2 linked regions of the Homo sapiens genome follow. The protein of the gene in region 2 purifies or fractionates together with the protein of the main gene of each other region. This does not show direct contact. Each region holds a gene or a part of one and is shown on either strand. Other genes may lie near its edges.

The links. Proteins that work in one complex are often made in the same cells at the same time.
Region 1: the proteins of ENPP7 (region 2) and CD109 purify together in Homo sapiens (affinity purification with mass spectrometry; 2 studies listed by BioGRID and IntAct, with this or other methods). This does not show direct contact.

What each region holds. Positions count from the first base shown.
Region 1 is NC_000006.12:73,699,054-73,702,802, reverse strand, and holds part of CD109 (CD109 antigen isoform 1 preproprotein), read right to left. Parts: intron 1-3,749. UniProt on the Homo sapiens protein: Modulates negatively TGFB1 signaling in keratinocytes.
Region 2 is NC_000017.11:79,728,837-79,732,585, reverse strand, and holds the start of ENPP7 (ectonucleotide pyrophosphatase/phosphodiesterase family member 7 precursor), read right to left. Parts: upstream 1,644-3,749; 5' UTR 1,540-1,643; coding exon of another isoform or gene 1,447-1,539; coding exon 1,194-1,446; intron 1-1,193. UniProt on the Homo sapiens protein: Choline-specific phosphodiesterase that hydrolyzes sphingomyelin releasing the ceramide and phosphocholine and therefore is involved in sphingomyelin digestion, ceramide formation, and fatty acid (FA) absorption in the gastrointestinal tract.

The DNA of each region.
Region 1 (3,749 bases), on a different chromosome or scaffold from region 2:
TGTTACCTCATTTAATCCTCACAATATCCATATAATTGTATAAGGCAGAAACCACTATTTTTCAGATGATGAAACTGAAGCCTAGTGAGATCATGACTGCCCACAGCCACACAACCACTAAGTGGAATGGCCAGCACCTGTGCCCAGGTAGCCAGGCTCCAGAGCCCAGGCACATCGTGATTATGCTGTGGTCCTTTATTCTCAGGTACCACCTACCTGTTAATATACATCACACACAAGAACAAAGACGATGTGTGAATGAAAAGCCTACACCCTTTAAAAATAATTCTAACATAACTGCAGGTTCAGACTGAGTTATGTTGGCAAAGCTGCCTGTGAAAACCTGCTCTGGGAGATCTGCCCACACACTACACTAATTAATCTACTTTCATAAAGACCATGGGACTGATTTTTATCTACGAGGCATGAAATGCATGTTCAGGAGCTTTGTTTCCACCAGAAAACCATCCAAACCAAATTGGATGATTTTTTAAGTTTTTCAGCTAATATCTCAATTTTTAAAAATTTCCCACCCTTACTGAGCCAAGATGGAAAATAAAATATATCATAGTCAATGTGAGAAAGACAACAAAGGAAAAAATAGATTTTTTAAAAAATCTTTAAAAAAAGGTTAACACTCCATTAACTCTCCAGGATTTTAGGGCAAAAAGAAAAAGCGAGTTACAGACACATTTATAGAGCACATTCCACCCCAGTAACTCAATGGGAAGATGGAAGTAGGATTGGCAGCATTTAAAAAATGGTGCCCCCAAACCAGCAGGCACTCACCTGGAGACGCCCATGCAGAGTTCCCAAAATTTCAGTAGGCATTTTCAGTTTAGGTTTTTGGGAGTTTTTGGTTTTAAGGGTTCTTTTGTTTTTGTTTTTGAGATAGAATTTCACTGTGTTGTCCAGGCTGGTCTCAAACTCCTGGGCTCAAGCAATCCTCCCACCTCAGCCTCCCAAGCTCTGGGATTACGGTTGTGAGCCACTGCACTCAGCCTCTAGCATTTTTTCTTAAATCAGGTTTACATGAAACTAATGATGATGAATTCATTAATGAGGGAGAAAGGTTATATTCTTTATTACTTGAAGTGACTCTTGTTCAGGAAAACTACTGAAAGTTTACAAATGAAAATGTCAAATTGTAGCAAGAGAAGGGAAAATAAAACAGAAATTATGGTTTCAAGGACATCACGAAAATTAAATTATTTTATATGCCTTAACAGATGAGAGGACAGTTCTCAAAATGTTCTTAATTTCTTTTTTCTTGATTTGGCAAGGAACTCCTTTCACAGTAAGGAAAGAGAAAAAAAATATGGGAAGAGACAAAGGGACAGACTCACTCTCCACCCAAAACAGTAATCTGACTTGATTTTAAATGCCAATAGCTGTGCCATCTTCTTTCCTCTGGTAATTATTACCTGCTGAACTTTTACTACGTTTTGCCAGTTATGTTTATTTAACTAACTCTTTATGCAAAGGAAGATAAGATTAGGAACATAGTTCTAATCACTATGGAGCTGATGGCAATGATGCTGATAGTGGTAGAGGCAGTGACAGTGGTAACAGTGACAAGCAATCTTTTGAATCTCACTACTAGAAAGGCATTGATACACCTTCCCAGAACTCTGCAAAGTGTAGCAGAAATACTTTTTCTAAAGGTCTATTATTCACCAAAAAAAAAAAAAAAGCCCATAATCGCTGGGCACGGTGGCTCACGCCTATAATCCTAGCACTTTGGGAGGCCGAGGCAGGCAGGTCACGAGGTCAGGAGTTCAAGACCAACCTGGCTAACACAGTGAAACCTCGTCTCTACTAAAAATACAAAAAATTAGCCAGGCATGGTGGCACATGCCTGTAGTCCCAGTTACTCGGAAGGCTGAGGCAGGAGAATCGCTTGAACCAGGGAGGCAGAGGTTGCAGTGAGCCGAGATCGCACCACTGCACTCCAGCCTGGGTGACAGAGTGAGACTGTGTCTCAAAAAAAAAAAAAAAAAAAAAAAAAAAAACTACAATCAATCCCCAATAAATGTAGAATTAATGTATTTTTAAATGAATAACAGTAATATAACCTACACTCCTGGCCATAAAAGTGGAAATGTAAATAAAATCTCCCCCATATCTGTCAAACAAACAAATGAACTCTTCCCTGAAGAAATGCCATACTTTTTCACCTTTATTAAATACATTCTCCATTTGAACAATTTAGTTATTACTATTTCCAACACAAATTGAGCCAGAAATCTATTGTGGTTTGGGTAAAACACCTCCCTATCCTGAGGATTTCTAAGAAATCCAAAACTGCTGGAAATAAGCTACTAAGACACAGTCTACTGCCTTACCCAACTTTACTAGAAGATAAATCTTTATTAAAACCAACCTTCTGTTGGGGGGCTGGGGGTGGCTCATAGGAAAATGAAACAATCAGGCTCATACCCATAATCCCAGCACTTCGGGAGGCTGAGGCAGGAAGATCGCTTGAGCCCAGGAGTTCAAGACCAGTCTGGGCAACATAGCAAGACCCCATCTCTACAAAAAAAAAAAAAATTTTAAACCTAGCATGCTGGCACTTGCCTGTAGTCCCAGCTGATTCAGGAGGCTGAGACAGCAGGATCACTTGAGCCCAAGAATTCCAAGTTGCAGTGAGCTATGATTTCACCACTGCACTCTGGCCTGGGCAACAGAGTGAGACTCTGTCCCTTAAAAATAAAAGGTATTTATTTGTTGGTGTTTGGTGTTTATGTGATGGAGAAAAAACAAAACATGAATCCACATCCAGATACTTGAAGATCCAGACCCCTGATTTAGAAGTCCTGGTTTATCTACATATTGTTACAACTGGAGAAGCCAGATAAAGCAAAGGATGTGAAGACAAGCAGGGAGAAGTGTCTTGATCCTCAAGTCCTCACATTACAGGAAGCATCTGCTCTGAGAACAATAACTCCCAGCCTCTGATAATACAGTAACATTCTCCTTTGAAACAGGAGAGTGCTCCTAGCAATGGCATTTTCAATGAAACTCTATGTCAATAGAGTCAAAAACAGCCCATGAAAGAAGCAGCGTTTTCCCTCCTTCCTTCCCACAGATCCATTCTGCTCCCAGGACAGCTTTGCCCGCCCCAGTCTTGAGTACTTGAACTTTCCTATGGGCATACAAGGAACCCTTCTCCCAAAAGAAGATCTAAGAATAAAGCTGAAAACCAAGCCACAACAACATGCACCCCAATGTAGGTACTATTTGTTGCAAAAAAAAAGAGAGACTGATAACAGAGATCACAGAAAAGACCTAACAGGTGAAATTCTAGAATTAGAGTATGTAAATGTCCAAGCAAAGCTCAAATATTTATCAAAAACATCCATATATATTCTGGATCTCTGCATTGCAGGAAAACTGCCACACTAGTGGAGCCAATATTATAAATTCTTTTTTTTTTAACTTTTATTTTAGTTTCAGGGATACACGTGCAGGTTTGTTATATAGGTAAAATGCCTGTCATAGGGCTTTAGTGTACATGTTATTTCATCATCCAGGTGATAAGTGTGGTACCCAATAGGTGGTTTTTTAATACCCTCCCTCTTCCCACTCATAAATTCTTAATGAATAAATAATGAATGTGGAACTACCTTAAGTATTATGTCCTGTGATTTAATATTTCAATATTTTCTTTAGCGACTATCATAAGATCAGGGGTCATTCATTTTCAGAAATGATAGTCCAATAACGAAAGTTGAAGTCTGCCCCCATGT
Region 2 (3,749 bases):
GCCGAGGCCCCAGGAGCCAGAAGAGGTGAGGAGGGAGCCTCTGCTGGAACCTTCCGGGTGGGTGCAGCCCTGCAATGCCCTGGGTTTGGCCTTCTGGCCTCCAGAAGCATGCGGATCCGTTTCTGTGGGTTTAAGCCAGTCTGCAGATCTTTGTTGCAGGCGCCCTGGGACACCCACGCAGGGTCTTTGGAGGATGACGCAGGTTTGGGAGGTGGCTGAGCCCCTAGGGAGGGCCAATTGCTTTTCAATTCTCTAACACCTTTTTTGTGGTACTTGGCTTTTTATTATTTTATTATTGTTTGTTTTTTTGACACAGGGTCTTGCTCTGTCACCCAGGCTGGAGTGCAGTGGTGTGATTGCAGCTCACTGCAGCCTCTACCTCCTGGACTCCAGCAATCCTCCTGCCTTGGCCTCATATATATATATATGTGTGTGTATATATATATATATATACATATATATATGTATATATATATGTATATATATATTATATGCAGTCTTGCTTTGTCACCCAGGCTGGAGTGCAGTGGTGCGATCTCAGCTCACTGCAACTTCCACCTCCTGGGTTCATGCAATTCTCCTGTCTCAGCCTCCCAAGTAGCTGGGATTACAAGCATGCACCATCATGCCTGGCTAATGTTTGTATTTTTAGTAGAGATGGGGTTTCGCCATGTTGGCCAGGCAGGTCTCGAACTCCTGACCTCCAGTGATCCGCCCGCCTCAGCCTCTCAAAGTGCTGGGATTACAGGCGTGGGCCACTGAGCCTGGCCCCATATTTGGCTTTTTAAAAACCTATGTCTGTATTGTCTACAGCCTGGGCAGATCTGTCAGGGAGGTGTTGGGTGGAAAATGGAAAGGATGGAAGGGAGAGGGAGAGGCTGACACAGCCAGCTGGAGGGGCGGGCAGGGGAGGGGAGCCATGGGAGCCAGCGGGGAGCCCGCCACACTCCCCTCCTCCTGAAGCCTTCTGGGGTTGCTGCCCTGGCTGTGGCCACGGGTTTAAGGACCCCCCTGGTCATTTTTCTTTGTCCCGGATCTGTTGCTACCAACGGTGAGGATTCCTAATGGTCCCCTTGGCTCTGTCCTGTGCCTGGAGCAAGGACCTCTCCCCTTTATCCTGCACGACACGGCTCTGTGCCATCTGGTTTCTCAGGCCCTCCCACCCCCAGGCCCCGTCACAGGGCAGTACTCACCGGTGACCAGGGTGAAGTGGCAGGGGCTGGTCATGGTGACAAAGGCGGGGGTCATGTAGCGTGCCTTCACCCCGTCTCGGGCCATGGCGTCCAGGTTGGGGGTGTCCACGTCCTGGTCGTAGTTCCAGCGGAAGCCGTCGAAGGACACCAGGAGCAGCTTGTTCTGGGAGCCCTGACTTTGTACCGGTGCTCCGGCCCCGGGAGCCAGGAGCGTGGCCAGAGCCACAGTGAGGAGGACGGCCGGGCCTCTCATGCTGGGCCTTCCAGATGGACAGGCACACAGGGTGCACAGGGCTGGCTCCTGCCGAGGAGGACAAAGTCCCAGGGTCACCCGGGCTGATCTCATCCCGTGCGCCTTTGGAATGTGGCTGTGCACATCCCCGGGTCGAACCTCGGGAGTGGGCTCCCCAGCCGTGTCAGTGCCACCCCTGGTCCCAGCCTCACGTGCGTGGGGTGGCATCAACTTGAGCATCTGCCTTTATTGCCAGCCGCGCCCTTGGTGCTCCAGGCTCCTCCCCTCCCTCCCCAGAGTGGGGACAGTGACCCAGGGCTCAGAGCACAGCAGGAGCCCATTCCACTGGGAAAGTCGTGCCCTCTCCCTCTCCCATAGCAACAGGTGGTCCCTCTGTCCCAGCTCACCCTGACCCCAGGGGACCCAGGTGAGGCTGGGGTGGGACCCCCTCTCCAGGCCTTTAGTGGTGCATGGGCCTCAGGCCTGCCTGGGTGAGGGCCTGTGGGGTGGGCTTCCCATGGTCAGGGCCAGGACCAAGCCTGGGTCACAGCATGGCCTTGTCCGGGGGGAACCCCAGGCTGGGTGCCTGTTCTCCTCCTGGTCCTGTTAAGGGGCTCCTTGAGCGTGGTGAGCAGACCGGGAACCGGATGGCTCCAGACCAGCGTCCTGTGGGCCTTCCTTCTTGGGATGCTTCCTTCTTGGGATGCTTCCTTCTTGGGAATTTCAGAGGGTGCCTGGGGCTCGGACGTTCTTGCTTGATGACAACAAGGGGTCAGAAGAGGGGGACTCCCTTGTTACCATAGGCACATGAAGGGTGGGAGAGGAACCCCTGGATTCAGTGTGCGGTTCTCCCTCCCTCTCCCCCATCTCTCCTTCCCCTTCTCTTATTTTCTCTCTCTTTCTCTGTCTCTCTCCCTCTTTCCTTCCCTGTATGTCTCTGTCTCAGTTCCTATTAAGCACGTTCTGTGTGCCAGGCATGGTTCTAGGTTCTGGGGACACAGAAGTGAATGAGACAGACAATGTTCCTCGTGGCCTCCATTCGAGTTGGGGACACAGAAGATAAAATGAACAAACAAGAAAAAAAGAGTTTCCCAAAAGAAGGGAAGGCAGGAAGACGTGATGGAGAGGCTGGCGGGGTGGGTGGGCGGCACGCAGTGGTGGCTGGTGGGGTTTCGCTGAGAGGATGGTGGAGGCCAGTGACTCTGGGGGACCATGAGCTAGGGGAGCGGGCATGGGGCAGGTGGCAGGGGTGGCAGGGCCAGTCCCGTAGGGCAGGTGGCGGTGATTCTCATGCCAGGCAGTGGAAGCCAGGCGGGGGTTTTAAGCAAGAGAGTGACATGAACTGATCTAATGCTAAAATATACTCTCCATTTGTGGGTGAAGGATAGACCAGAACGAGGGCAGAATGGACACTGGGTGCTCCCTGGAGAGGTGACTGCCTGTGTCTGAGCAAGAGCTATTGGTGGCCCGGACCAGGGTGGTGGCTGTGGGATGGGGCTGGGTTTGAGGCGGATCCTGGAGGTTTTGCTGGGAGGTGGTGCGCTGGATTGCATGGTGGGAGGTGGTGCACTGGATTGCGCGGTGGGAAGACGGAAGGGCATGGTTGGAGGTATTGTCACAATTTCAATCTGGAGCCACACACCTGCCGACAGTGGCCCCGGCCTTCCTTAAGACCTTTGGCTGGCTGCAGCAAGCAGACGCCGTCTCGAAGCGATGGCCGTGGCACTCAGATGACACCGCAGACGCCGTCCACAGCCTCCCCAGGCCAGCCAGCCTTTCCTAACCCAGGTGGGCAGGGACCACTGGTACGGATCCCCGGCTGCCCCTGCCTGGCCGACTGGAACACACTCTCAAGGAGGACTCCGTGCCAGTGACCCCTCTTCTTCATGCTTCTGTGCACCAAAAGCTGAAAACCAGGATGGAGCGACTGCCCGGTGCCTGCAACCACCGCGTGGGGTGCCTGCTCTGCAGGGCTGGGGCTCAGGGCACCCAGAGGTTTGGCTCCTCCCTGGGGAGCACAGACCTTGGGGAGGGTAAGGATCCCTGTGAGTCAGGGACACAGGTTACGATGCACGCACAGGGGGAATGCAGGCGGCCTCGGGAGAGGAGATCGGGCTTTGCTGGCACCAGCGTTGTGGGAGGCCCACAGGATGCATGGAGCCAGGAGAGAGGGCGGGAAGGCTTCAGGCAGAGGGACCAGGCATGGAGGAAGGGAGGCACCGGGGCTCCCGAGAGGGTCGACCAGGAGGAGCCTGTAGGCCGTGGCGGAATCTGGATTTTCCGCTGTGGCAGAGCTGGTTAGTTGTCCCCTAATATCTGTTCTC